Linked DNA regions of Homo sapiens: regions 1, 2, 3, 5 and 6 are each linked to region 4. The links come from fine-mapping of genetic effects on gene expression. A gene starts in region 4. Each other region holds a variant in brackets. All regions are shown on one strand. Distances are from middle to middle.

The links. PIP is the estimated chance that this variant, and not a neighbour inherited with it, causes the effect.
Region 1: its variant is fine-mapped to the expression of GOLM1 in whole blood (TOPMed, PIP above 0.99).
Region 2: its variant is fine-mapped to the expression of GOLM1 in whole blood (TOPMed, PIP above 0.99).
Region 3: its variant is fine-mapped to the expression of GOLM1 in gastroesophageal junction (GTEx, PIP 0.98).
Region 5: its variant is fine-mapped to the expression of GOLM1 in whole blood (INTERVAL, PIP above 0.99).
Region 6: its variant is fine-mapped to the expression of GOLM1 in whole blood (TOPMed, PIP 0.91).

Annotation. Positions count from the first base shown.
Region 1 is chr9:86,062,039-86,067,111 of GRCh38, forward strand. The region is part of intron 3 of GOLM1 (golgi membrane protein 1); the gene reads right to left. Among named protein-coding and RNA genes, the nearest start is that of GOLM1, 35 kb to the right of the region's middle. RefSeq lists enhancers at 646-1,562, 2,795-3,295, 3,296-4,296. The variant G/A (reference allele first, on the strand shown) is at 3,002.
Region 2 is chr9:86,075,093-86,080,165 of GRCh38, forward strand. GOLM1 (golgi membrane protein 1) reads right to left here. Exons shown (of 10, transcript NM_016548.4): 2 at 4,100-4,249; 3 at 2,320-2,499. The coding sequence starts at 4,228. Among named protein-coding and RNA genes, the nearest start is that of GOLM1, 22 kb to the right of the region's middle. RefSeq lists an enhancer at 3,791-4,990. The variant A/G (reference allele first, on the strand shown) is at 2,800.
Region 3 is chr9:85,899,826-85,904,898 of GRCh38, forward strand. It overlaps the pseudogene PHB1P7. Among named protein-coding and RNA genes, the nearest start is that of NAA35, 39 kb to the right of the region's middle. The variant G/A (reference allele first, on the strand shown) is at 2,773.
Region 4 is chr9:86,097,478-86,102,550 of GRCh38, forward strand. It overlaps GOLM1 (golgi membrane protein 1), which reads right to left and starts at 2,081. Exons shown (of 10, transcript NM_016548.4): 1 at 1,934-2,081. RefSeq lists an enhancer at 1,522-2,022 and silencers at 1,653-1,702, 1,863-1,962, 1,973-2,292.
Region 5 is chr9:85,917,597-85,922,669 of GRCh38, forward strand. No RefSeq gene overlaps it. Among named protein-coding and RNA genes, the nearest start is that of NAA35, 21 kb to the right of the region's middle. The variant C/CT (reference allele first, on the strand shown) is at 2,867.
Region 6 is chr9:86,125,052-86,130,119 of GRCh38, forward strand. LOC101927623 (a long non-coding RNA gene) reads left to right here and starts at 2,489. Exons shown (of 5, transcript NR_110996.1): 1 at 2,489-4,030; 2 at 4,179-4,277. The variant T/C (reference allele first, on the strand shown) is at 2,497.

The DNA.
Region 1 (5,073 bases), 35 kb before region 4:
TCTATCCAGGAAAACACGTAGGACACACAGACACAGTTGCTACACGCCCAGAATAGCTCCTGCCAACACATCCCTGTGTTGTCACAGGGAAGGTAACATCCTCCCACCCCATCCACCTTGCAGCTTGGCGGGTGTGGGAAAGCACCTCGCTGGGAGAGTGCAGGATGCTCCCAGGACCCGCCCTGGGGTCACCCGGGTGCCCAGCTTGGCAGAACAAGGTCCATGAGGTGTGGTGGCCATCACAGACATAAGCACAGGGTTGATGGCGAGGGGGCCTGAACCCAAGACTGGCTCACACCCTCCCCCAGCATCTCCTGCACAGGGCACACTGCAGGTGCTTTGGGGAGGGAGGAGAGAGGATGGGGAGGAGGGGAAGGGGAGGAAGGAGAGAGCAAAGGATGGTGAGGAGAGGGAGAGAAAGGAGGACAGAGGGAAGGGAGGACGGGGGAGGAGGGAGGAAGAGGAGGAGGGAGAATGGAGGGAGAGGAGGAGGGAAGAAAAGAGGACAGAGTAGGATGGAGGAAAGGGATGGAAGGAAGAGGAGAGAGACAGGGTCTGGAGGGGAGGAGGGCAAGAGGAGGATGGAGGGAGGAAAAGGACAAAGGAAGGGAGAGGGGTGGAGGGACAGAAAGGAAGAGGAAGGATGGAGGGAGGGGAGGCAGGAGGAAGGAAAAAGGAGGAGAAGCAAACGGGGGGGGCTGCCCTTGCCTCTGAGAACCTGCTACACTGTCTCCTTTGGTAGCAGCCTGCCCCTGTGCCTCTAACCTACACGTGACTTGGGTCAAATAAAACTTCCAGGAGGATCCAAACCTGAAGGACAGTGGGAACCCCAGAATGCACTTTGAGGCTTCTCTAGCAGTGGACGAGCGCCTGTCTTCTTAGTCCCTGACCCTGGATCTTTCTGAAGGTCTCCTCATCACCCAGCTGCCAGGGAACCTGGCTGCCCCTGAAGCAGCTCACACTGGTCTGTCCCCTCTGCAGCACCACCCAAGCTGCCCCTCAGCTCTTCCCGCTGCTCTCACTCCTGAACACTTAAGGAGATGGCAGGGGAGGAGCTGCCGAACCAGAGGAGCACCCCACACACTGCCAACAGGGCTTGACCCAGGAGCGGGGGCTTGAAAAGCTCCAGCTCCGTTTTTAGAGGAAGAAGAATGCCGGATTACAACACAGCACCAGCAATCTGGATATTCGTTCCCTGGCTGTTCTTTAACCAGCCAGGAAATGCCCTGTGCAAGGGCTGGAGGCCTGGGGCTGCAGACTCCCAATCTCAATGGGCACCCCAGGGCTGAGCCACCTGAGGGCACTGGGGGTTTCCATTTTCAAACGGGAATCCTAGCAGCTTCCCTGCTCCCACCTGCGGAAGAGGAGACACTTTTGTACATTCTGACTTTCTGCAGACAGGTAAAAAGGCGTACACAGACCTTTGGGGATGAAAGAGAAACTAAAACTGAACCAAGTGTACAGGTTACAGCGTCACAGTCAAGGCACCTAACAGACCCTACTTACTGTTTGTTCTTAAACATGAATGACTGCAGATCCCTGCCAGAGACGGTAAGTGAAAAAACAGCTACCTCCTATTTTCTTTACGTATTTCCCATCAAACGCCTGTCTTGGGTTGGGTTAAGAATTACAGAAGGTAAACGGAGTCAATTCCAAGTCACTCAAGCAATTTTCTGTGTGAAGAGAGAACAAGACAAAAGCCAACCACAACAGCAAAACCCAAAGCCTCCGTTACGCCTTCTATGGCAATCAAACACGCCAACGCTCTTTCTAGTGCGTATGAAGCCAAGGCCAAGAGCGAGGACACCTGCAGGATTTGGTTCTGTCCCATTAGGAACAGAGATCAATGCACATGAAATCCATGCCTCGTCTGGTCAGCCGCTAACCATCGTGGGCAACCTCACATTGCACGACAATGCTTTCCATGTGGAACTTGTCCATGGCATGTTTAAAAATCAAACCACGTCCTGAATCAAATAGGCATCTGAGTCTTCTCCTGAGGTCCAGGACATCCCATGACAGGCTCAGGCCCCTCCCTGGAGGTGGGAGGTGAGGACCCAGCACTAGGACACCCACTGAGGCACAGTCTGCAGTGAAGGACATCTACCTGAATGGCATGTTTGCTGCTTCTCCTACAAATGTATTTTTAAGTGTGGGAAGCAAATTACTTGAGTTTAATTATAAACCTGTATTTGAAGGTTGAATCCAATTGACAAACTGGAGAATTTCCAATCTAAAAAGACTAGAAGTCTTCTGAGACAAACACTTTTATTTTCAGGGCAGCAAATTTTCAATGGATTTTACTGACCTGCTTCCATTCTGCTCAATTCACACTTTCCCGCACCTATCCCATCTGTCACGGGGCCTGTTGATCCCTCCTCTTGGCTGCCTCCCAAATCTGCTCACTTTGCAGAGCTCATCCTACTCCTGCCCAAATTCAGTGCAACATCACTTTTTACTCCAAGTATTTCAAGAGCTGCCTCACTGTGCTGCCTCCTCTCTGCCCTGCTCCCCACCCAGCCCTCTCCCCACATGGCCAGGGCCTGCCTTTTAAATCCCACATCTGACCACACTGCTCCATCACAGCTTAAACCCTATGACGGCTTCCCCGGTCTTGAACTCAAGTCCAAACTCCTTCAAACTCAAGTCCAAACTCCTGCACCCCAACATCACACTCTGCTCGGGCCCAGCCACTCGCAGTTCCCTAGGCACCCTTCCAGGTTAGACACTGTGGGGGACAGCGCTGCTGACTCCCATGGCCCTTGAGCCGCCTGCCTGGTGGGGGATGCAGCAGATCGGCTCCTCCACGTCGGTTCCACACGCCTTTTGCTGTGCTTTCCTGAACCACAAAGGCTCGGAAGCTAAAATGCACCTTCCAGAATCATTTCCAGTGGGATTCTGCCTCCAATCAGATGCACTTACTGGAGGCTAGAATGTGGAACAGAGTGAGGGTGTGGGAGGTGCAGAACAGAGAAAGTGGGGTGCCCCTGACTCTGGGCCT[G/A]CACTGCAGCAGAACCCCGCTGGTCTCACGCTCTACGCTGGGCACAGGGGCAGGTCCTGAGATAGTGCCTGAGAGCCACCCCACCTCAATGCAGGCCCTTCCCACAGCTTACAGTATCTATTTCCCTGTATCAAATCCTTCCTGCTTAAAATATCTGGGTGGTTTCTCTGTCTACACTGACCCCACTACACTCACTTCCTCATCTTTGTCCAGCACTCAATGGTAAATGTGCAATGAACACAGCCTCCCCACCACTGGGCACAGGCCAGGGCAGAACAGAACAAATACTGAACGGACTGACAGAACTGGACCCGGAAAATCGGTGAGAATAAAAACAGAAAAGCTGCTCTAGAACTCTGGATTCATCAATCACAGCGATTAAAGGTGATAAAAATCAAAGACACCACTTTTATCTGCACAAGATCGCTTTGGTTCCCCCAGAAGACAATCATTACATTCGCAGGTGCACAAGCAAAGCTGGCCCAGAGAGAAGACACCAGAACCCTCTGAGAATTGCATCTGGCCACAGGAGAATGCAGTCTGGTGGGGCCAGTGTGACGAGCAGACCTGGCAGCCCCCGGCAGCCCCACGCCGGCCACTCTCAGGTGCCGGGAGCCTTCCATGACCTCTCTGGCTCTCACTCTCTTCCCCTCTGTCTCAAGCGACAAGAATGACTGTCTCCTAAAGAAATGAAGTTAGAAATTAAATATGTTCATGTCGGGCTGGGTGCGGTGGCACACACCTGTAACCCCAGCACTTTGGGAGGCTGAGGAGGGTAGATCACGAGGTCAGAAGTTCAAGACCAGCCTGGCCAACATGGTGAAACCCCATCTCTACTAAAAATACAAAAATAAGCCAGGCGTGGTGGCACCTGCCTGTAATCCCAGCTACTCGGGAGGCTGAGGCAGGAGAATCATATGAACCCGGGAGGCGGAGGTTGCAGTGAGCCAAGATTACGCCACTGTACTCCAGCCTGGGTGACACAGTGAGACTCTGTCTCCAGAAAATAAATAAATATGTTCATGTTACAAAAGCACTCTGAAACTCTCAAGTAGGACCAATGACCAGACTTGTTAATTATTTTATTTTGAAGAGGCAAAATCTTTCAGCAAAAGTCACTCATAAACAAATGCTGTTGTATTTGAGGGAAGTGACCCCATCCCAGGCTCAGAAGACACTCAAGAACGCACTCCATGAACCAGCTCTTTACAAGAGAAAAGCACTGTAAACACCTCAGAGCCTCCTCGTACCCCAAGTTACTGTGCAAGAGGAGAAACCGGGCAGCTCCCTGAAACCACCTGGACATGGGTACAGGTCACACAGGCAAGCATGACAACAGTGAGGCTGAGCGCCCCCTGCACTTTCCCACTGCCTCTTTAAGCTTTTCTTCTTCTGGACACAAAACGATAAGCAAGTCACCAACACCTCTGTTCTTCCACTCAGCAATCTTTTTGTTTTAACTCAGTTGCTCCCCTTCAGGAAAGATACAAGAACTCTATTTTCATGACAAAGGAACTGTTGCTAAAACATTACCTTTGCACCTCTGCAATATTAATGCACATATTTTAACAAATAAGTAAAAAGTATAAATGTCAAAGTGGATGTGCAGCTGCGAGAAACCAGCCGAGCGAGAATGTTACAAGTGCAAATGCTGAAAATGAAGCTATTTGTGACTGAACTTTTGGCAAGCAAAAATGAACACAATAGCAGGAAGATGTGCCTTTCCCTTCACGAAGTGCTAGTAAGTAATTCAGGGTCTCCCAGACTCTTCCCCAAGCATTTCAGAGGGCAGGTGATGCCACCCCCAAGCCTTTGTGGCCACTACTGGCCACTGAACAGCAGTTAGCCAAGAGGGGACCCAGGATCTTTGGAAGTCTTCAGACCCAAATTATTATTATTACTATTATTATTATTATTTAGATGGAGTCTCGCTGTCACCCAGGCTAGAGTGCTTGGCATGGTCTCAGCTCACTGCAACCTCTGCCTCCCAGGTTCAAGTCATTCTCCTGCCTTAGCCTCCCAAGTAGCTGGGATTACAGGCATGCACCACCACACCCAGCTAATTTTTGTAT
Region 2 (5,073 bases), 22 kb before region 4:
TCCACCAGGCAAGGACACCGCAAGAAGAAGGCATCCATGAACCTGGAAGTGGGCCCTCACCAGATGAATCTGCCCCGTCTTGATCTCTGACTTCCCAGCCTCCAGACCTGTGAGAATAAATACTTGTTGTTTATACGCTGCTCAGTTTATGATATTTTGTTATAGCAGCCTTAAACAGACTAAGACAAAGTCCATACAGAAAGAGATAACATTATCACCGCTGCTGCGGTGGCTTACGACTGCGCCCACCACTGCTGCTGTGATCATGGCCTCGACTGCCGTTGGTACAATTAGGTGTAATAATACCAACCACCAGCTGCTGAGCTTTCATTCTAGGTTGAGCACTGGGTTAAACGCTTTATAAATATTATCTCATTCAATCCTCACAGGCACCCTGTGAGATTCCTTTCTCATTTCCACTTGACAGTTGAGAAAACAGATCCAGAGAATTTAAGTGACTTGCCTAAAATCACACAGCTGAGGGAACTTTAAACCCGGGTCTGCCTGACTCACAAGTTCCATGCCTCCTACCACCAAACCACAGCTAAAATCCTCCTGCAGCTAAGGTTTGATGTGAGAACCCACCCTTGCTCACCAAAATGAAAAGACATTTATATCGCATATTCTAAAAGAGAAAAACTGTGGAAACAGATTCTCTTTTCAAATAACTACTTGATGCTCTTTTTTTTCTTTTTCTTTTTGAGAGATGAGGTTAAAGGGGATTTCAGGAGCACAAAAAGCATATCTCACCAGTAAGAAAAGGGAAGAAACATAAAGAAGCACTTTATTACAACAACATTATGCACAATTCCCAGAGAAGAAATATGAGCTTGCAAATATAGGAAAGTACTCTGCAAATTAAACAACAAAAAAAGTACTTCTTGAATTTTAAATCAGTTATGCGAGAAAAGTCTGAGTCCCTTCCTGGAAATAATTCATTTTCTGAGACAATTCAAGATAATGGAAGTTGAGCTACAACATTCTTCCAATAAATTAGCCACTCCAGAGAGAGAGGTACACGCATTATAAAAGCCAAATTTTTCAGGCCAGGTGCGGTGGCTCATGCCTGTAATCTCAGCACTTTGGGAGGCCAAGACGGGTACATCACCTGAGGTCAGGAGTTCGAGACCAACCTGACCAACATGGCGAAATCCCATCACTACTAAAAAATACAAAAAATTAGCTGGGCGTGGTGGCACATGCCTGTAGTCCCAGCTACTTGGGAGGCTGAGGCAGGAGAATTGCTTGAACCCGGGAAGCAGAGGTTGCAGTGAGCCAAGAGGGCGCCATTGCACTCCAGCCTGGACAACAAGAGGGAAACCCCATCTCAAAAAAAAAAAAAAAAAAAAAAAAAAAAAAAAAGCCAAATTTTTCTAGTTAATAATAGAGGCCAAAGTTTGATGCACTCTGGGACAGGAGATATTAGTAACTCACACAGTTACACAATTTAATAAAGAAAGTATAGTCATATATTCCTACATAAGAAAACCAGGCCGGGCACGGTGGCTCATGCCTGTAATCCTAGCACTCTGGGAGGCTGAGGCAGGTGGATCACGAGGTCAAGAGATCGAAACCATCCTGGCCAAAATGGTGAAAACCCCATCTCTACTAAAAATATAAAAATTAGCTGGGCGTGGTGGCAGGCACCTGTAATCGCAGCTACTCAGGAGGCTGAGGCAGGAGAATCGCTTGAACCCGGGAGGCAGAGTGAGCCAAGATTGCACCATTGCACTCCAGCCTGGGCGACAGAGCCAAACTCCATCTCAAAAAAAAAAAAAAAGACACATAAAGCTTAGATATTTTAATTAGCAGGAAGGCCCCTTTAAATCTACGCAGGATTTGTTGGTTTTTTTCCTAGCTTAAAAGCAAGGGTGCAGTCCCCTACTTTCTCTGTTAGTATTTAGTAGAGTCTGCCTCTCCTCTCCTCCATTAGATACTTGGAGGGCACAAATATTATTTTTCTCTGAGATATAAGCACCTGGCATAGGCCTGGCACAGAGTAGGTATTTAATACATGTTTGTGGAAAGTGGGAAGAAAAAACCCAATAGGAGAAAAAAAAAAGCCAATAGGAGGATGAATCTGAAATTGTTCTTCTGCATTTCTCCTGTTTATTACCACTGCAAAAGGCTTCACCGCAAGCCCAGCCAGGGACTTGGAGGGGAAAGGGAGAGAATGCCCAAAGCTTGATCAATAGGCTCTTTCCACATAATTACATAAATCTAAACCCAGCCGCTTGCTCATCCTCCCGCCAAGAAGAAACAGACAATGTAGACACCATCCCTTAGAAAAGAACTGAGAGGAAACAAAGCAGGCCTTGCCTTTTCGTCCTGGTACAGCTTGTTGACGCTCTCCAGCTGGAAGTTGTGGCTGGACTGGATTTTGTCAAGCTGCTCCCGCTGCTTCTCCAGCTCTCCCTGGAACTCGTTCTTCTTCAGCTCCACGGCGCCTCTCTCTGCAGCCGCCCTGCGGACCCTGCCTTCCAGCTCCATGATCCGTGTCTACAAGGAGACCGTGGCATTAGGGCTGATGCCAAGTTACCTGAGGAGCCTGGACCACCTGAGCGCCCTCCACAAAGACCACCTTGGGGCCCAGGGCCAGCACCAGTCTTATACACACAAGTGCCCAAGGCTGTGTTTTAAGTCAACTGGACAGAAGCTGGAGCGGTTTCTTCTGGAAAAAATGGTCTCTGTCAGTGTAAGTGAAGGAAGGCTCTGTGCACTCACACCACACTTCCCACTGGGTTTTTGTGAGGCTTAAATGTGCTAAGTGCACAGAATGCCTCATGCTTTACCTGGCAT[A/G]AGATGATGCTCAAATATTTAGTTCTTCTTCGCTGCTAACAAAGCACTTAACAACTCTTTAGCAGATACAATTTCTGAAAACAGATTCAGTTCTCCAACTCCAGACAAGCAGACCTCATCTGCCCAGAGAACAGGAACTCCCGTGGAAGCTGAGACACAGGGAGTACAAGCCCAGGAGGGTAAGTGTGAGAACAGGACAGAGCACAGACGTGCTGGGGTGCCACGGCTAAGCCCATGCAGGTTGGAATCCCTGCTCCACCTCAACCTCTTGGTGCCTCAGTCTGACCCCCTGTGAAATGAGGAAAGTCAAGTCCCAGCCTTGTAGGGTTTGTGCACAAAAGGAGATAATTTGTATAAAGTACTGTGAAAGAGAAATTATTCTGACATTCATTAAAATGGTAAGAAAGACTATTCAAAACGATTGCAATAGGAGAGGGAAATTGTGCTCAATGCCGAACACATCAAAGACAGCTAGGGATTTATAGCCAACGAGCACAGTGCGGGGAGTCAGTGGATGGAAATCGCCCCCAGAGTAGGGGGATTCTTGCTAAACTGGCCTAACAAGATTCTTGCTAAACACAGGCCAAGGACTTAGACAGCAAGGGTAGGGATGAGGAACTTGGTCAAGGATCAGGGGTAGAAGGATGGCTTAGCGGGATCCTTTGCTAGGACTGGGCTGGGCAGGCCAAAGACAGGCAGTGAGAGTTGGGAGGTGCCAAGATCAAGGCCTAGTCAAGAAGACGGCTCAGAAGGGCCCGACTCAAGTTCAATCAAGAGGAGCATCTTTGTCACTGCTCAGCACTGCACCTGACCCATGACTGCACCGGTAAATGAGGAAGTTAAAATTATTATTATCATTAAGTAATGAAGATAAAGATTGGTACCTTTAAAAACATATTTCTTACACCCATCATCCAAGCACACTTCCAATACTACTCTTCGATATCTTGGGCGCCGGAGGACCGCAAACAACGGACTATGGCCAGTGTATGTAAGCAAGCTGTCTTCCCAGAACCACCCCAGTAGCTCAAATGAATGCTGTTAACTCACAGGAAAGGCAGGGAGGGATACCACAACCGCAATCCTACACAACCACAGAGGGGACCTCTCCCACCCAAAGCTGCTTGGGGTCTGGCCCAGGGCTGTGGGGGTGTGCAGAGCCCTAAACTCACCTTACAAGCGTGTGCCCTGCACAAAACGCCCTGGCTGGCAATAAACAACAAACCCCTGGGACCCCATCATAACAAAATAAACAAAACATAAACATAAAATAAACATAACAATAAAGAAAACAAAACACCTGGAGGTCCACGCTCCGGGAGCTCGCAATCCAGTAGTTGAAGCCCAAGACGATGATGCAGGCCACCAGGGCGGCCAGCACGAGGGGCGGCGACTTCATGCTGCGACGCCCGTTTCCCAAGCCCATCATCTCAAAATCAGCGCTGAGAATCTGCCAAGTAAAAGCAAATAAATAAACATCAATACTAGTTTTATCATCTCCGAAGCAGACCGTATCATCCTTACAACCAAGAGGAAAGGAGTCTTGCCAAGAAGCGTGGGCTGGTAGCTTCTCCTTGACGTGCAAAGCTGTCAAGGGAGAAGAGTATGTGAACGGCACGCACAGAGCCCATGGTGCTGTGAACCCAGGGCAGTGTGGCCAGTTCCCAGGACAGGCTCGGAGGAGCAGGCACCGCCCCGAAACCTGCCACAGATTAGCTCGAGACCTGGGGCAAGACATGATTCCTCTTACACTTCAGATTCCTCCCTTGTAAAATCATTACCATACTCACCTTCCCGGCATAGTTTGAGAATTAATCATTTCTGTAAGCAGCAATGTTTGAGAAGTAATCATTTCTGTAAACACCAATAACAAATATTAAGTGCTTCCGCATCATATTAGAAAGAGTATATTCCTCATTACTCCTCAGAGAGAGCTTTTTGCTTTGATTCCTAACAAGGGAGGTTTTTTTTACCCTTGACAGGATTACTAATGACACCCAATTAAAGCATTTCTCAAGCAAAGCAGGAAACCCATTCTGGAGGTGAATGTGAACTCCCCCCCATGTACATCATTATTCAGGCACAGCCCTGGCTATAGAAGTGTCTCCTCCTTCATGACACACAACGGAAGTGGGAGGTGTGCCATCTGCCTGAAGTCACCAGGAAAAATGTGTTCCATCTTAGGATTTGAGGTGGAAACAAGGCATTCACTCCATGCCAAACGAGAGCACCTTCTTTCGAACATTCATTTCTCACTTTAGGGACCGTATCTGT
Region 3 (5,073 bases), 200 kb before region 4:
GGGCTGGAGTGCAGTGGCGCAATCTCGGCTCACTGCAAGCTCTGCCTCCCGGATTCAAGAGATTCTCCTGCCTCAGCCTCCTGAGTAGCTGGGACTACAGGCCCACGCCACCACGCCCAGCTAATTTTTTGTATTTTTAGGAGAGACGGGGTTTCACCATCTTGGCCAGGCTGGTCTTGAACTCCTGACCTCATGATCCACCCGCCTCAGCCTCCGAAAGTGCTGGAATTACAGGCGTGAGCCAACACACCCGGCCGTCCCGATGATTCTTAACACGGCCTTCCTTCTGCCCCTACATCAGAAATCACTGTGAAATTTCATAATTGGCTTAAACTGAAGGAAATAAAGGTAAAATCACTTCAGATCTCTAATTAGTCTAAAACAAAAATGTCAGCCAGAGGAAAAAAAGACAGATCATCTTAAAAGGAACAACAACTGAAATGATAGCTTACTTCTCAGTAGAAGCAATGGAAGCCAGAAGACAATAACATGGCATTTTCAATGTCCTGAAGGAAAATAACTGCCATAGTGACTTAGCAAGCATCTATAAATAGTGAAAATACTCTTTAGAAATGACGTAGAAATAAGGATTTCAAGAAAAAAATAGAGTGAGAATTCATCCCCAGCAAGCCCATACTACAAGTATTAAAAGGTGTTCAGCTAAAAGGAAAATGAACCCACGCAGAAGGTCAGAAATAGAGGAAGAAAGACGAAGCAATAAAATAATAATTATGCTAGGGTCTTCGTTCATTTGTGCTGGTATAACAGAATATTTCCGACTGGGTAATTTATAAAGAACAGAAATTTATTTCCTCATGCTTGTGGAGGCTGAGAATTTCAAGATCAAGGGGCTGAGAGGCTTCTTGCTGCGCCCTCACATGGCAGAAGACGGAAGGGCAAGAGAGAGTGAACCTACTCCCACAAACCCATTAATCCATTCACCTACTTCTTCCCCAAAAGCCCCACCTCCCAATACTGTTGAATTGAGACTTGAGTTTTCAACACAAATTATCAGGGACACCTTAGAGCATAGCAACTAGTAACTCTAAATAAATAGTTAACTATATAAAACAAAAATAATGTATTGTGCAGTTTAAAATATTTATAGATACAAGACCACAACAGTATATAATTTGGGAGGGAGGTATATGGAGTTACAGGGCTTAAAAGCCTCCTACTGGAAAAGGGTAAAAATACCAGTTGACATTAGACTTTGTCAAGTCTAACGCTTGCTAAAAATCTGCATGCTATAGTCTCTAAGGCAACGACCAAAGGAAGAGTAAAAGCTGTATAATGTCCTAGCAAATAGAGATTAAAAGTAGAATTGTTAAAAATATCAATTATCGGCTGGGCATAGTGGTTCACACCTGTAATCCCAGCACTTTGGGAGGCCGAGACAGGCAGATCACTTGAGGCCAGGAGTTCGAGACCAGCCTGGCCAACATGGTGAAATCCTGTCTCTACTAAAAATACAAAAATTAGCCTGGTATGATGGCAGGTGCCTGTAGTCCCAGCTGCTTCGGAGGCTGAGGCAGGAATCACTTGATCGCACCACCACACTCTAGCCTGGCCAGCAAAGCAAGACTCTGCCAAAAAATAAAAAATAAAGGAAAGAAAAGAAAAAAGATCAATATAAAAGAGACAAGAATGGAGAGAAAAAGGAGCATAGAACAGGCAGAACAAGTGTACATCACATAATAATTTGGTAGATTTAAAACCAAATATATCAATAGTTATAGCAAATGTAAAGCAACTAAATGCTACAATTAAAACACAAAGAATGAGAGGCTAGTTTTAAAAAATAAACCCCATGGAAAGAAAGTTTAGATTTCATCTCCTCCAAGTTATCTATAAAACAAAATATCTATAGCCCCTCAGATTTGGTTTGAATTTATAAACCATAGCAATCTCACTTATCACCAGATCCTAATTCAGAAAATTTTGTTTAGATAGGGTCTCACTATGTTGCCCAGGCTAGACTCAAATTCCTGGGCTCAATCAATCCTCTCACCTCAGCCTCCCAAGAAGTTGACTACAGGCATATGCCACTGCACCTGGCTTCAGGTAATTCTTTTCTTTTCTTTTTTTTTCAGGTAATTCTCTTCTTTTCCTTTGTCTTCAAATGTTAAAGAATCCCTTCATTATTGAGCCAAAAAAATTGTCTTAGACCTACTTTATTGAGACATAGACAATATCTCTCTCTCATTTCATATGACAGTCCATCAGATATAGGAATATGGATACCAATTTTTCTATTTATATATCCCTAGTTTAAAAAAATAATTTTTACATAATCTTCACCATATTTTTATATCATTTATGAAAACAGCTCCTTGTACAGTTGGCTCATTGATCCAGCTTGTTAAGTTATTTTCAGACTTTGCTTCAGTAAGCCATCATATTGTCACTTTCTTCCATTTCGTATCATAGGGAAATGATACAAAAAGCATGCTTTCTATATTTTCATCTTATTCATTGATAAAAACGTTGAATAGAACATATCTGATGACTGTGCTTCAGAGCAGGCTTTGGAGAACTTTTTCTAAATTGACCGTGATCCATGAATCAACATTCTGCAGGTATGCAGTTTTAAACATTAATAAATTTGCCTGTGTAGCCAGTTCACATTTCTCCAACTTGTCCATGAAAGGCCTTGAGACGTCTTGAGTTGGCATAAGAGTCCTTGTTAGATGCCTTGCTTAAATTCAAATACCTGGCTGGGCACAGTGGCTCATGCCTGTAATCCCAGCACTTTGGGAGGCCAAGGTGGGC[G/A]GATCACCTGAGGTCGGGAGTTTGAGACCAGCCTGGCCAACATGGTGAAACCCTGTCTCCACAAAAAAATATTAAAAATTAGCCAGATGTGGTGTCATGTGCCTGTAATCCCAGCTACTCAGGAGGCTGAGGCAGGAAAATTGTTTGAACCTGGGAGGCGGAGGTTGCAGTGAGCCGAGATCGTGCCACTGCACTCCAGCCTGGGCGACAGAGTGAGACTCCATCTCAAAAATAAATAAATAAATTCAAATACCTTAGGTCTGCTTATCAAGCTAGATGTGATCTCAGAAGGGAGTGCACATCTCATTTCCATTTGTTTATGGGGACAGAGAGTCAACTATAAATAATATACAAGTCTGCAGACTTAGGTTAGAAAAAGTATGATAATCCAGTGCCTCATGCATCTATGGGCACTGAAGCTGCTAAACATCACTTTTTTTTTTTTTTAAGACAGATTCTAGCTCTGTCACCCAGGCTGGAGTGCAATGGCGCAGTCTTGGCTCACTACAACCTCTGCCTCCCAGGTTCAAGCAATTCTCCTGCCTCAGCCTCCCAAAGTAGCTGGGACTACAGGCACGTGCCACCACACCTGGCTAATTTTTGTATTTTTAGTAGAGACGGGGTTTCACTATGTTGGCCAGGCTGGTCTCAAACTCCTGACCTCGTGATCCTCCCGCCTTGGCCTCCCAAAGTGCTAGGATTATAGGCATGAGCCACTGCGCCTGGCCTAGACATGAATTTTTAAAGAAAATGCCACAATGGAACACACTGGACCTTTGAACCCCTGGAGAAACTCAATGGGTTCCAAAGCATGAATAAGTAAAACTGGTAATAGCCTTTAGAAACTCCAGGGGCCATAGTCAAGGTAGACTGTACTCGAAAAGTTACAAACTGGTTCATCTGAGGCTCAGAGGGCACTGGTCTCAGATAATTTAGATAAAGATGCTCCCTGAACCAGAACTCTGATGTCCTTCTTAGTAAATTGGAATCATGACAGTGGACTTCTTTCCTAGTGGAGCTGCATGAGTTAGGATACTTTCTGCTGTATGTAACAAAAACTGACTCAAACTGGCTTAGACAATAAAGAAGTTCATTATTTCAATAAATCAAACTCCAAGAGGCAGAGCAGGCTTCAGGCTTGGTGGATTCAGTAGCACAATTCTGCCATTGGCAACCCAGGAATATTTTTCATGATTCCAATTTGGGAGAGAAATAGGATTACTAAAATTGATTTAGACTGTTTTCTGGGGATGAATGGATGTTGGTGAGTCAACGACCAACAGAAGAGTTTTTGAATGTTGAATGTAGAATAGCACTCCTAGTTCTAAGCCAGGTTTTCTTTCCTGACTTTTAGGGTAGTGTCAACCCTAAGGGCGATAAGATTAAAGGCAAGGATATAAATTGGCCGACCTAAGAATACACCCAAAGGCATGTAGCTTTACCCCTAGGAACATACCTCTATACAGTCCTATGATCTTCTCCAACACAGTAGTAACACAGTTCTTGAATTCTAAACAGAGGCCTGGGATGCAGGTGGGGAAACCTTTGTTCCATGGATGCAATGTGTATAGAAACTTTTCTTTTCTTCTGGAAGTTTAAGGCAGAAAATCAAGATGGGAAAGACACCCAGGTACCTTTCCAGTTGGAAATCAGCCTAGACTAATTTTAACAAATGGTAAAACATAAACTGAATGATTTTATTGGCTGTTCAATAATGGATTTAGTGAAGAGAAGCTGGAACTAATGAATAAACTAAGGAATGGGATATTGTTTTCATTAACTTATGCTACCTCTACCTTTGATCAGGAAGGTATAAGAGCTAGCTATGTACTATAAGCTATAATATTTTTCTTTATTCCTTAATGATTGAAGTGTTTTTAAAAAGAGGAATTTTTTTTTTTTTTTTTTGGAGACAGGGTCTCACTCTGTCACCGCCAACTGGAGTGCAGTGGTGCTATCTCGGTTCACCGCAACTTCCGCCTCCCAGGCTCAAGAGATTCTCCCGCCTCAGCTGCCCGAGTAGCTGGGATTACAGGCACGTGCCACTACTGCCCAGCTAATTTTTGTATTTTTAGTAGAGATGTGGTTTCACCATGTTGGCCAGGCTGGTCTCGAACTCCTGACCTCAAGTGATCCACCCGCCTCAGCCTCCCAAAGTGCTGGGATTACAGGCATGAGCCACCGTGCCCGGCCAGGGGAATATTTTTGACAGCTCAATTTGTCATATATACTAAATTTACAATGCATGCTAAAAAGAGAAACTATTAACTACCAAACATGAAACTGATTTTTCCCATAGAA
Region 4 (5,073 bases):
AACAAGTAATAACAATAATGCTGCAGAATTTAAGCCAAAGGCACAGAACACCGCTCCCCCGCCCCCAATGGCCACCCCAGGTCCTTTGAGAAAGGCGGCTGGACCTCAGGGACCACGCTGCCTTCAAGCTCCCTCCCACCAATAGTGCCCATCAACTGACACCTGTCTTCTTCTCAGCACACCTGCCTAAAGTGATGCTCCACCCTTCCTACTGATCCACGCAGACGCATTTTCCCCAGGTTCTGCCCTCTGTACTTCCAATGCAGAAAGCCAGCTCGCACTTTCACAGGATAAGGGTAGCAGTTCCCTCCTTCCTGGGGAAGGTGGCCATATATATATAAACCCGGGTAGCCCTGGGCCTGCTATGGTCAGCTGTCCTAACTGTTGTTTCTGCCCAGCCCTCAACAACAACAACAACAGCGGGTGGAATGTAAATGCAAAATCTTTTCATTTCCCATCAATAACTGGACCTAAACCAGCCATTAGAAAGCAGATGGTATCCCTGGCCCTTAATATCCAAGTCACCACAATTTCCTGGCCCCACCCTCAGCACTACTTTCCTCTCATTTCTTTCGTTTTCCTGTAAAACCAACTTTAAAAAAAAATGTGAAAATTGGATAACCTCTCCATAGGAGAACAAAATGTATCTTAAAAGCTAACCTCTTTTCTTTAACCATCCTAACAATTCAATTTTTGTTCACTGACACCTTAAGAATTGAGTGTCTGGCCTAAAAACAGTAAGTCTTAGCAAGTTACTAGTTTCTATTAAGAAAGAAAGTAATGAGCTTAGCTTCATCTTTTATAACACAACTGGAAGAAGCTAGGATGCCTTTGGAGACCCACAAAAACTGACAAGAGATTGTCCCATGCCCTCCAAAATTCAGAAATACTAAAACTGAGATTTGAGCCAACCTGATGGCCATGAGCTAAACAAAGCCACTCAAGCGCTGCTAAATACTTCATCAGGTTATTGTGTATCTCACTAATCCAGCCCTAGAAATGTTCCTCAATAATGTGCATAATGTAGGGCCTAGGGACCCCAAATCAGACAAAGAAAACCTCAAAATCGTGAAAGTCACACAAGTTTAGTTTTGCAAATCTGGCTATGGGACATCTGAAATTGTCCAGCATCATCATGGTATTTCAAATATAATAATTCTTAAATTTTGCTAAAAAATTTCATCAAAATTGTTATTCTTCACATTTTGTTTCTTAAAAGCAAATCATTAAAAATATTAAATGGGATATGATTTTTACAGCAGGGCAAAGTTGTGTGGATCCTCCACGTTGGCAAAGGTGGAAACACAGGTATGCGAGAAAACCCCGAGCATCCACGAGAACGGGATGCAGCCGCGCTCTGGACGCGCGGCGGGAGGACCCGGAGCCCAAGCTCCGGGGTCACCAGCCACGAGGCCCAGCGGCAACGTGGACCCCAGGGCGGCCGGAGCGCGCCTGGGGCTGGAGGGGAGGAAGAGGCGGCGGGAGCCGAGAGACTCGCGGCTCGGCCAGCCTCCCGCGCCTGGTGCAAATCACGCTGCAGAACTGGAACTAGTGCGACTTAGGGGGTGCACGCTTTTGACTTTGGATGCCGACGCGCGTGACAAAGCTCAGAACAAAAAGACAGGCCCCGCATCGCCTGAGACTGCAGGGCAGGGAATCCTCGCGAGGCCCCTCATCGCAGGGCAAGGGGGCCGCGCGCCCGGTCTTGGGGAGCGAGCCGAGGGGCCCAGGCAGCCGCGGGCTACTCGGTGCAGGAAGGTGCGGAGCCAGCCCCGAGCGCAGCCAGCGAAGGTTGCAGCCCCGGCGCAAGCCGCGGGGAGGCTCCGGGGACCGACGCGAGGTCTCGGCGCGCGGGGTACGGGCCCTGGGCAAAGGAGGGAGGAAGCGATGGACCGCGGTTCGGGCAGCCTGGGGCCGCGCGCCGCCCACTCACCTCTTTTCGAGGCTCCGGCCGCCACTCGGGGATCCGGGGCCCCGCTACGAGGCCGCCCGGGTCGCTCTCCCGCCGCCGCCGGCCTCGAGCTCCGGCCGGCTCCGCGCCGTGCGCCCAGCGCCTCCGCGTCCAGCGCCGCCGCGTCTCCGGCCTCCGCAGCGGCAAGGCCCCGCCCCCGAGCAGCGCCGGCGGCGCGAAGGGAGGAGGCGGCGCCGCGAGCGCGGAGAAGCGAGGCAGGGGCTGCCGGGGCCGCGCGGACTCCCGGCCCCACGGTGCGCGCGCCCCGGCCGGTGGCCGCCCCTCGGCGGGAGCAGGAACGCCAGCGTGCGCCCAGTTCTCGCCGCTGGGCGTTGCCCCTTCCCCCGGGCCACCCCATCGCCCCTTCCGACGCGGGAGCTGGCGCCTGAGCAGCGACGCGGAGCGGGGAAGCGGCTGTGGGGAAAGGGTACCTGGGGGGAGCCCCCATCCCACGTTCCGCCCCGAGGGAATGTTCCCGAACAGCCAACCGCACCCAGCGCCACACTCACGTTACCTTCTTTATAAAAGTCGTCGGGTCAAAACTGCCCAGAGAAGGAAGCGAACGAAAAACAGGTTTTTAGGGGGCTTATACTCACAAAATTGTCTTTTTTCTCCCACGAGGCATTCCCTGTTGACCATCATCTCGCCTCGGTTGTCACCGCTCAGGCCTTAGTGTTTGGTCTGTGACCCTTCCACTGCTAGCAACGGAAAAAGTGAAGATTCCCGGACGCCTTCGGGTGTGATCTTATAGCCCGGGCAGCTGCATTTGAAACAGCGCCTCAGATGACGCTCAGGCGCACTGATGTTTGAGAAGCCCTATGAGGCCGTACCTCCCGGAGAGAATGCCACAAAACTAGTGACCTACAGGGAAACCATGCTAGAAAATTCTAAAGCAATGGTTCTTAACTCTGGCAGCACCTGCCATCCATTAGAATTATTTGGGGAGCTTTTAGAGCATTTAGGAACCAGGGTCCCACTTCCAGAGTTCAAAGTGAACTTGATATTTTTTGTTTGTTTTGAGCTTCCCAGATAATCCTAATACAGTATACGGCCAAGATTGAGAACAGTTTTCCTAGAATCATGTCTTCATGTCTTCCTAGCTCTGGTGTCTGGGAAAGGAAACTCCTTCCTCTGCGCCTCTCTCAAATCACAATAAAAAAACAAGTAAATACATGAACACCTAAAGGAATGCTCACAGCTGAAATTGATTTTAACCAGAACAAAGAGTCACCTTAAAAAAGGTGATCAAGATACCCTATTGCTACCTGAGCATGGAGCTTCTTAACTGCAGGAAACGTATCTTTACCAGCTAAAACCTCTTAGCTGAATTAGAAGCTGACCATACATGACCCCTTTAGAGGAATGTTCTACTATATTCCAAAATGATATTTTTGTTATCTGCAACTGTTAAACTGTTGTAGGGTCAGACCAAAGCATTCAGAAGCTGAGGCTGTATCAGATGTCAGCCCTGGTTTTGCAGACTTAAGTTGTGTCACTTTGATCTTCTAGTGAGCTTAAATAACCATAATCGGGGACAGGTACAGGAAATTCCCTTTCTTGCCCATTTTAGCTCTCTTAGTATAGTTTACATTCTTAGACTGGTGGACTGTAACTTCTATATCATTTGGCTCTAAGGAGGGTCTCCATTAGTCTCTCATTTATCAGCAACTAATTAGCGACTCACTCAGTGATTCTTAAACACTTTATGGAACAGGTCCATATGTCTAGGTGCTAAGGCAGCTGGCTGAATGAGCTATATTTTAATTGAAGATGAATTAGTCCTTTTCGTTAGATTCTTTATGACAAAAGTTGAAAATTTTAAGATGCAGTTTTATATATATCTATATACATAATTTACATTCCTTATAAAAAAGCTAATCAGTTGCTGGCCCTGAAAATTCAATTGGATGGGTTTTGATTAAACAATGTGCAAGGGGCTACAGTGGTTGGTTGAAGGAAGCATCCATGTTTTGCCTGTTAAGCATCCTTTCCTTAATGTCTTAGTCCATTTTGTGTTGCTATAACACAATTCCACAGACTCAGTAATTTATAAAGAAAAGAAATGTATTTCTCATAGTTCTGAAGGCTAGGAAGTCTAATATCAAGGTGCTGGCATCTTGCAAGGGCCTTCTTGCTGCATCAGCCTGTGGTGGAAGGCAGAAGGGCAAGAGGGTGTATGTGAAATTGAACTTGCAGCCTCAAACCCTCTATAATTGGCATTAATTTATTTATAAGAGTGGAGCCTTTATGACCTAAACACCTCCCTTTGGGCCCCACCTCCCAACACTGTTGCACTGGAGATTCAGTTTTCAACACGTGCTTTATGGAGCACACATTCAAACCATAGCATTCTGCTTCTATGCCCCCCACCACCCCCAGTTCATATCCTTCTCACATACAAAATACATTTATTCCATCCCAACAGCCCTAAAGGCTTTAATATTTATTTATTTATTTATTTATTTTGAGACAGGGTTTCACTCTGTCCCCCCGGCAGAAGTGCAGTGGTGTGATCATGGCTCACTACAGCCTCAACCTCCTGGGCTCAGGTGATTCTCCCACCTCAGCCTCCTGAGTAACTGGGACTACAGGTGTATGCCATCATGCTCAGCTAATTTTTTTGGTATTTTTTGTAGAGATGAGGTTTTGACATGTGGCCCAGGCTGGTCTCAAACTCCTGGGCTCAAGCAATCCACCTGCCTCAGCCTTCGAGAGTGGTGGGACTACAGTCATGAGCCACTGCACCTGGCAGCCCTAAGGTCTTCACTCTAGCACCAACTAGAAAGTCCAGAGTCTCATCTAAATCAGATATGAGCAAGATTCAAGGCACAATTCATCCTAAGACAAATTCCTCCAGCAATGAGCCTGTGAAATTAAAACAAATTATTTACTTCCAAAATACAATGGTGGCACAGGCACAGTATAGGTATTCACATTCCCAAAGGGAGAAATATGTAAGATAAAGGGGTAACTGGTCCCAAGTAAGTCCAAAACCCAACAGGGAAAAAATAACATTAAATCCCAAAGCCTCAGAATAGCCTTTCTTGACTATATCTCACCTTCTAAGCATACTAGGGTGGGAGTTGGACCCCCAAGGTCTTGGGCTGCCCCATCTGTATAAC
Region 5 (5,073 bases), 180 kb before region 4:
CAGTGTCCAGTTAGAGGTGACATGGACTCTAGGTGTCCACTAAGATTCTTTAGATATTCTTGTGTGATCTTAAAAATTGCAGTTTAAACTGGACTTACGTGTTGTGTGGATACTGCAGATTGCCTGATTCAACAGCTCGATCACTCTACTCCCTGAGTGCTTTCCATATGGAAGCTGGAAGCGAGGCTGTCTTTTATTCATTCCCAACAATTGCTGGTCACCCCTAACAACGCTGCAATGAACATCCTTGTACATATCCCCTTTGGGACCCGTGTGCATGTTCCTCTGGGTGTACTCAATATGGATTGTTTGGTCGTAGTAGACATAGTACACATATACAAATAAGTACTCTCAGGCTACTCTCCAAAATGGGTGTGGCTGTATGACGCTCCCTGCAGAGTAGGAGGGTTCCATTTTCCTACATTCGCACCAATATTTAGCATTATCTGATATTCTAAGTTTTTCTGATCTGATGGGTGTAAAACTTAGAATATCAGATAATGCAAAATATTCGTGAAATATTTAGGGAAACTAGAAAAACTTGATTCAAAGAATGTAATCAGAAAACACCTTTCTTTCTTTCTTTCTTTCTGTCTTTCTTTCTTTCTTTCTTTCTTTCTTTCTTTCTTTCTTTCTTTCTTTCTTTCTTTCCTTCCTTCCTTCCTTCCTTCCTCCCTCTCCCCTCTCTCTCTCTTCCTTCTTTCCTTCTCTTTCTTTCTCTAATTCTTTCTTGACTTCTGCTCCCTTTAAATTTATTTAGTGGGAAAGTACCTTCTGTTCCAACTTGAAAATGTACGCATTCCCATGACATTTCTCTTACTTTCAGGAAATAAAAATATCTTGGTGACATTGAACAAAAACACAGTCTTATTTCAGTAACTAAAAGTACACTATGTTAAGTTATTATAAAATCTTTGCATTTAAATTAAGTTAAAATCTTTCTCCTTCCCTTGATGGAACCTTCTACAGGCAGGAACCAGGGGAGGGACTGTGATGTTTCTTTTCTCTATGCTCACCTTCCACTCCATCTATGTTGCTAAGTATGATTTCCTCTAAGAATGGGGAGGCAGAGGAGGTAAAAAGCGTTAGGAACATGATGACTGGTATTGTAAGATGGTGTTCTCTGGACCTAATAAGTGTTTAGAGCTGATAATGTTTGGGGTGGGAGTATTCAGAGGATTCTGTTGGGAATGCTCAATGGTGTTTTCCTGATAGGGGAACTGGAGTTTCCTCTGACTTGCTGCTCCCCTCTTAGCCCCTAGTCCTTTGACTGACTCTACTCGGGAGGCACTCACAGACTTTTTCTGTTAAGATCCTGTGGCTCCCCCAGGCAGCCCTTCTTGGGACTTAAAAGGCACCAGATTAGCTCTTTCTCCTTAGTGGTCATTTTGCAAAGGTAGCATGAATACATGCACTCCATCAATGCCACATGGTACAAATATAAAATAACATTTATTGGGAGAAATGGATAAGCAGAAATGTGCATAGTTGACAGTTCCTACTGTCATGAGTCCTCCAGGAATGATGCTTGGACTGATTGTGGGTGGGCTGGACTCAGTGGGGCCATGGTCCCATAATGAAGAGCTCTACTTCCACCTACATTCCATATTCGTAGGAAAATAGAGACAAGGATCATCTACGTGCCTTTGTAGTGATGGACAACCTCTGATTGCAAACAGGCTTTATTAGAAAGAAGCAACTTCTGAGATCAGTTTTCATGTTTTAGCCTGTTTTCCTATTGAGTGAACTCAGATCTGGTGAGCCAGCTCTTTACCAGGCTACTGAAAGGACACAGGGAATCAGCCTCCAGGGCTGCCCTGAGCAGTCGGCATAGGCATCCATTGCCCTGACCAACTGGAAGTACAGGCCCATCCCAAAGCAGCTAACTTCTTGCTTTCCAGCACTGGAGTAGTTAGTGAGTCTACCTCTGCCTTCACAATTTTCCAGTGGTCAGATACCAGTCCACTGTGTCTCCCTGGCTAGTAGAATGAATATAAAACTCTCTAAGTAGTACTGCTGAAGCCTCTCTCTCTTAACTAAGGTGAAGGGGCAGATATTCTCTCTCTCTCCATTCTAGGAATGAGAGTCAAAGAACAACTGTTTCCAAAGAAACCTTCCTAACAAATTCTCTTTTGACTCTTTTATAGCCTCAATATGAGGGTGATTTTGAACACCTACTTAGAAATTTTTGAATAGTGGAATAATGAATTCTTTGAAATAAAATCTTTGTTTTTTCTTCATAGAAACTGAGCATGGGATATTTATAAAGACTTTGACAGTTGGTTCTCAACTTTGGCTGGATATGAGAATCACTGGAGAAGCCTATGCCTTGCCTGCATCCTGAGCAGTTAAATCAGAGTCTCTGGAGGTGGGCTCTCTAGGTGATTCTAATCTACAGTCAAGGTTGAGAACCACTGCTTATGTAGAAACAAAGGCTTTGAAAGCAGAAACAATTACATTGGGTGATTAAACGTAATTTCCAGGCCGGGCGCGGTGGCTCACGCCTATAATCCCAGCACTTTGGGAGGCCGAAGCAGGTGGATCACAAGGTCAGGAGATCAAGACCATCCTGGCTAACACGGTGAAACCTTGCTCTACTAAAAATATAAAAAATTAGCCGGGTGTGGTGGCACGTGCCTGTAGTCCCAGGTACTCAGGAGGCTGAGGCAGGAGAATCACTTGAACCCAGGAGGTGGAGGTTGCAGTGAGCCGAGATCGCACCACTGCACTTCAGCCTGGGTGACAGAGCGAGACTCCGTCTCAAAAAAAAACCAAAAAACACACACACGCACACACACACAAAACATAATTTCTGCCAGTTTCGCCTCTTGATTATGGATCTATTCAGTTCATGTGGTGTATGCCT[C/CT]TTTTTTTTTTTTTAACGATATCAAGTCTTACTCTGTCACCCAGGCTGGAGTTTCAGGGTGCGATCACGGCTCACTGCAGCCTCAACCTCCTGGGCTCAAGCGATGCTCCCATCTCAGTTTCACAAGTAGTCGGGACTACATATTTGTGCCACCATGCCCCAAATAATTTTTGTATTTTTTGTAGAGACAGGGTTTTGCCATGTTGCCCAGACTGGTCTCGAACTCCTGTGCTCAAGCAATCTGCTTGCCTCGACCTCCCAAAGTGCTGAGATTATAGGTGTGAGCCACTTTGCCTGATCTTGTGCATGGCTTTTAAAAGCAGGCAACCCAGTGCCATTCCAATTTGCATTTGGTGCTCAGGAATAGGCTGCAGTTAGCAGTGTTTCCAGGAGTTGTCCAGAATACATATTTTACTTTCTTTTTGTGTTTTTCTGTTTTCTTTTGTCTGCTAAGTTTTGTGGCTGAATTTTCGAGTTGTGCTTTCCACCTCTTTCTTTGGGGGAACTCTTTATACCTCTGTCTGACACAGTACATTTTGTCCCCTTATCCACTTGCTGTTGTGGACATCAGTGAGTGCACCCACAGCCTCAGGTAGGTGACTATTTATTTATTTATATTATTATTATTGTTTTTTGAGACAGGGTCTTGCTCTGTTGCCCAGGCTGGAGTGTAGTGGCACAATCTCAGCTCACTGCAACCTCCACTTCCCAGGTTCAAGCGATTCTCATGGCTCAGCCTCACAAGTAACTGGGATTACAGGCACCTGCCACTATGCCTGGCTAATTTTTGTATTTTTAGTAGAGACAGGGTTTTGCCATGTTAGCCAGGCTGGTCTCGAACTCCTGACCTCAAGTGATCCGCCCACCCTGGCCTGCCAATGTGCTAGGATTACAGGCATGAGCCACTGCGCCTGGCCAAGGGATTCTTTAAAATTCCACCAGCAGCTATAATCTCTCGCTTCCCCTTTCCCATACAATCAGCTCCAAGTGCTAAGATTTAGGCATCTATTATGTGCCAGACATTGTTAAAATAAATTCTTTATATTTCAAGCTTTCTATATATGATCTTATTTCATCTTTCCAATTATGCTAAAAAATGGGTGCTATTATTATCTTCCCCATATTATTACCTTTCCCTAAATGGAAGAAACTGAAATTCTTTCCATTTCAGTCACACCTCAAAATAAGGAAAGAGACTCCGTGGTTCCTGGTTATAAATGACAGAAACTGACCCTTGCTGATGTAAGAAGGGAGCACATTTATTAAAAATGTCTTGGGTTTGGATGTAAATGTCTTCTTGGTGTCAAAATTCTATTGATTTTATAGCTCATCTTTATCCTATTTGAGTTTTCTAATAAATTTAAAGTTGACAAAAGACAGAAATTCTTTACATTTTTGCTTCTACAAGACTATGAACCTGTTAAAAACCAATTATGTCCCTTTTTTCTAAGTAGCTAATGTAGGGTCTTGAATATGTTGTGTACTGATTAAATGTGTGACTCGTTGAGGTATAGGTGGATTCTGCCTTCTAGCATAGGGCTGAGGTGTGGTCTGAAGCAAGCCATTGCCTAGCAGCTTGTTAGAAGTGTAAAGTCATGGGCCTCACCCTGGACCTGCTGAATCAGGATCTGGGGAAGAAGGAGCAGGACATATTAACAAGCCATTCAGGTGATTCTGATGCACTCTTGGGTTTGAAAAGCTCTGCTTTCATGGCTCCTAGTCCAGTAGACCCATGGAAAAATTAATTTATAAACAAATATTCACTATTTAATCTAAAAGCCATAGTAATAAGTAATGCCTCTTTACTAAAATGTAAGAGGTATGAGTTCACCTTAAAACTGTGATGTCTTTCTCATCTTCTCCTGCCCTAAGCTACTTCATTCCTTCCTTTTTCATTTGTGTGCTGTTCAGAAATCAAGGTAGAAGTCAAGTGATGTTTGCTGTTTTGTGTGACACACCAAGTCACACCCGATCCACACTGATCAGGATAGGAAATTGTTTCTTCCATCTAGTGACTTGAAAGAGAAGGGAGCATCAGTTTGAGTGAATGTGTGTCAGCCTAGAGAGATAGATAGAGCATCTATCTCTCTGTATCTATCTATCTATCATCTATCTGTCTGTCTGTCCGTCTGTCTATCTATCTACCTATCTATCTATTGATCGAACTCACTCATTACCATGAAGATGGCACCAAGCCATTTCATGAG
Region 6 (5,068 bases), 28 kb after region 4:
GAGAGCTTCTTTCCAGGGCAATCAGGCAAGAAAAATAAATAAAAGACATCTAGACTGGAAAAGAACAAGTAAAGCAATCTTTCTTTACACACATGAGCATTTGTCAGATCCTTCTATCGGAAAATTGGATTGGATTTTCCATTAGAAATTGCATCAGAAAACCTGATTGCCTCTGCAAAGGAATTACTAGAACTAGGAATTTGGCATTTTCTTAAACAGTTAAACATGTACCTACAGGAATTCCTAGCCATGCCAAGCCTAGATATTTAACCAAAAGAAAAGAAAAAATAAATCCATACAAAAATATGTATACAGATGTTTATAGCAGCTTTATTTGTAATAGCCCAAAACAGAAAACCACCCAAATGCTCATCAATGGGCAAATGTATATTACAAAACTGTGATATATCCGTATAATAAAATATTACTCAACATTAAAAAGAAAGGAACTATTGATACACACAACATGGATGAATCTCAAAATAATTATTGTGTGATAAGCCAGACAAAAAAGAGCAAATATCGTATAATTCCATTTATATAAATTCTAGGCTGGGCATGGTGGCTCATGCCTGTAATCCCAGTACTTTTCGGGGCATAAGCTGGTGGATCACCTAAGGTCGGGAGTTTGAGACCAGCCTGGCCAACATTAGTGAAACCCCGTCTCTACTAAAAACACAAAAATTATCCGGGCATGGTGCCACGTGCTTGTAATCCCAGCTACTCAGGAGGCTGAGGCAGGAGAATCGCTCGAACCCAGGAGGCAGAGGTTGCAGTGAGCTGAGATCGCACTACTGAACTCCTGCCTGGGTGACAAAGTGAGACTCCATCTCAAAAAAAAAAAAAATTCTAGAAAACACCAACTAATCTGTATTGAAAGAAAGCATATCAGTGTTGGAGCGTTGGCTAGGGAATGAGGAATGGGTGGGGAAGATCAAGAGGGAGGCATTGCCAAGGGGTCCAAGAAAACTTTGAGGGGGATGAAGATGTGTACTTTTTGAGATGATAGTTTTGCTGGTGTATACATCTATCAAACTATATACTTTAAATATGTGCAGCTTATTGTCTGTCAGTTACACCCCCAACAAAGTTGCTTTTTTTAAAAAAAAGGCGGTGGGGGGGTCGGGTGCGGTGGCTCAGGCCTGTAATCCCAGCACTCTGGGAGGCGGGGGCGGGTGGATCACCTGAGGTCAGGAGTTCGAGACCAGCCTGACCAATATGGTGAAACCCTGTCACTACTAAAACTACAAAAATTAGCTGAACATAGTGGCATGCGCCTATAGTCCCAGCTACTCGGGAGGCTGAGACAGGAGAATTGGTTGAACTTGGGAGGCGGAGATTGCAGTGAGCCGAGATCGCACCACTGCACTCCAGCCTGGGCAACAGAGTGAGATTCAGTCTCAAAACAAAACAAACAAACAAACAAACAATCTGTTGCCAGTTTCCTAGGAATGCTCTGGGCTTATTCTCTGCATTTTCCCACCCTGCCTCTCCCCTCCTCCCCCTCTCCTCTCCACAAAAGGGAACACATCACACAGGCTGTACTGCTCCTTACTTTGTCAGTCTCTGGTGTGTTTTAGGCTTATTCCATATCAGCACACAGGCTTTGCCTCATTCTTTTTGGTGGCTGTGTAGTTCTGACCTCAGTGCTCTAAAGCCATGCATTTAAGTGATTTGTCCTCTGCTTGTTCAGCTCTGAAATTTGTCATTACGCAGGCTTAACCCTGTATCAGTTAGGAGCCGCTTTTCTATTCCACCCTCTTATTGTTAATATGTGAGTCCAAGAGATTATGAGTTAATTGAGGGCAGGGACTCACATATCCACATCTCTATCTTCCACCAAAAAATAATGTTCTGCTCTGCAAATAGCAAATACAAAAAGCACAGCACAAAGTTCGCATCCAGCAGGCTTCATCCCAGCAGAATAAGCGAGAGGGACTCAGCACCAGTCAGTCCCATTTTGGTTAGTGAGAAGGTGGTGCCTTAGGGAAGAACACTGCATACTTCGAAGGCTGCTCTAGGGTCTGTAATCACAGCCCTCTGTGTTTGGGTTCATTCACACGGTGTTTATCTTCTGGGATTTGCTCCACAACACCCTTCAGGAAGGGTTTTGAAGGTTGTGGAAAAATCAGTGTGTGCAGCCAACAAAAGGGCAACAAGCCAATTGTGGTTATACAGGGCTGTTTTAAGAGTCAAGTCATGTTTGGGATGGGGGTGGGGTGCACAGTCTTGTATCAAGCATTTTCTGTAGCAGAGCTCAATCAGCATCTACAAGGCAGGGCTGGGCCACTCCTGCCTCTGAGCCTGTCTTCAGTAGTGGGTGCCTTTGTAACGAGCCAGCCTGTCCCCGGACCCAGGCAGAGTGACAAAACAGCTACACATTCATGAAGAACACTGGCTGTCTCCATAACAACCACGGTTAACATGACTCTGTAGAACTATGGGCGTGGCCCTTGGGTCTCCTGGCCTGGCTACCAACATGCCTGTGGCTTCTCA[T/C]TGGGCCCCGTGAGTGCTGGCAGGGCTGTGAAGCAGGTGTGACTAATGGGTCAGCTCCCCGCTGGGACTGTGACCCTGAAGCTAACAAACCTAAGGGCAAGGCCAGGCGCAGCAGCTTTCTGAGTCTCTTCTGAAGTGGCTTGAAGTCGATACTGTGTGTGTATGTAAGATCTAGCCTGAAGGAAGGCGCTTTGTTCAGTTGCTAACTTATTTTCTTGGTGGTAAGCTTTAGATATCACTTAGCTTTTATGTTTGCTTGTTTTGTTACAGATTAAGTAGCTGTCATAAGAAAAAGGACTATTTACTTACTATCTGGAGTCTTGTTCTGTTTGATACCCCTAGGCACATGTTCAATTCAGAGATAAGAGCCCTGGAAGTTATAGATTGCAAACAGTTTTTTCCCTGAAAACAAAACTGACATATTTATATACAATGATAAATACATAGATAGACTAATGATCAGTTTATGGATATTTGGCAATATGCCTCTCAATAATCATCACATTATTCATAATGTTTATAAATTCATAAATATAAGCGCACATTACAGCAACTTATTAACAATGTTCTATAAGCCAGAAAAGCACCATGAATACAAAATAAATTATTATAGTTCCTGAACAGTACTTTTACCTGCTAAATATTTTGTGGCCTTCAACAGCTCAGCCAGACAGTCAAAAGGAGAGCAACTTAGCAGAAGATTTTGGTCTAGCTGAGGATTCAGATCACTGAAGAACTTAAGTTTAGGCTGTTAAACAAAATTATGGGAGCCCGTTATTTTGGACTGAACTCCTGTACTAGGCCCCAACAGACGAGACCAAACCAAAATGGAGTCATTCATGCTAAATGCCTCGTCATCAAATAGAAGCTTTAAGGAAGCAGATAGATCCAACATAGACTAGTTTTTCTTGAGAACAGAAGATTCCAGTCTACCTGTGTCAGTGCAATAAGGAAGTCCTCTCTGCTTTAATTTTTACACAAAAAGTAACCTCATGTTAGCCAATCCGACTTTAAAATTTTTTTTTTCCTATTTCCTTGTTCTCACCTTACAAAACCCACTGTTCTGCTGCTGTCCAGCAGGAACCCTCATGCTGTTTTGTAGAATGGAAGCTGCCCTGATTCATGAATTGCAAATAAAAGCCAATTAGATCTATAACTATATTTGTTGGAATTTTGTCTTTTGACAAGACCAACTGGACCTTCCCTTTCTTGGTTAAAATCTGCAAGACTCTTCTTCCTTGGTCACACTGGACAATTGGCTTGTTAGAGCTGCAGTCAGGGGAACCTGGGAGAGACTCACCTTGCGAAGAAGACAAAGGCCACGGTGCTAATGGTGGTGGTGCAGGTATCCTGAGATGGCCAGAGCTCAGAGAAGTTCATGTCAAGAGGTGACAAGCCACAGTGAATTTACGGAATTTTTGTTTCTATGTTTATGGAAATTTATGTGTGCACTCATGCCGTGTTATGGACTGAATTGTGTCCTCCCAAAATGCATATGTTGAAACCCTAACGTCTAAAGTGACAGTATTTTGAGGTAGGGCCTCTGAGGAAGTAATTAAGGTTAAAGAGGTTATAAGAGTGGGGCCCTAGTGATGAGATTTGTGCCCCTGTAAGAAGAGACACCAGCCCTCACTATCTCTCCCTGTCCCTCTCTCTTTCTGTCTGTCTTTCTGCCATGTAAGGACACACAAAGAAGGCAGCCACCTGCAAGCCAGGAAGAGAGCCCTCACCAGGGACCAAAATGGCCAGTGCCTTGATTTTGGACTTCAGCCTCCAGGAGAGTAAGAAATAAATTTCTGTTTCTTAAGCCACCTAATCTGTGATATTTTGTTATGGCCATTTGAACTGACTCAGACAGCCAGGATCACTTATTTAGTTGTTCATTAATTTATTGATCCATTCAAGAAATTCAACAACTCTCTATTGAGTGCTTTATGTACCAGGCACTGTTTTTGGAGGTCAGGATGCATCAGTGACAGAAGACAAAAAGATTCCTACATTGTAAGCTTACCTGTAGGGACAGTAAACAATCAACATTAGAAGTAACTAAATCTGTGGTGATGATACTATACATTTTGTGATGTACCTTAACAGTACATAAATGTCTTTTACACCCATTATTGCATCTGACCTGGCAGACCCCGGGAGGTATGAGGAAATGAAGCCCACTCTCCAGGTCACATGGCTGGTACCAATTATAGTAGTAGCTAATAAGTATTTAGCTGCTTATTATGTGCTAGGAGCTGTTCTATGTGTGTGTTAACTCATTGAATCCTAGCAACAATTCTAGAAGTTGTTTTCTACAATAAAGGCACAGAGAAGTAATTTGTTCAAGGTCAGCTGGGTGCAGTGGCTCACACCTGTAATCCCAGCACTTTGGGAGGCTGAGGCGGGTGGATCATGAGGTCAGGAGTTCAAGACCAGCCTGGCCAAGATGGTGAAACCCCATCTTTACTAAAAATACAAAAATTATCCAGGCGTGGTGGCAGATGCCTGTAATCACAGCTACTTGGGAGGCTGAGGCAGGGAATTGCTTGAATCCGGGAGGTGGAGGTTGCAGTGAGCTGAGATT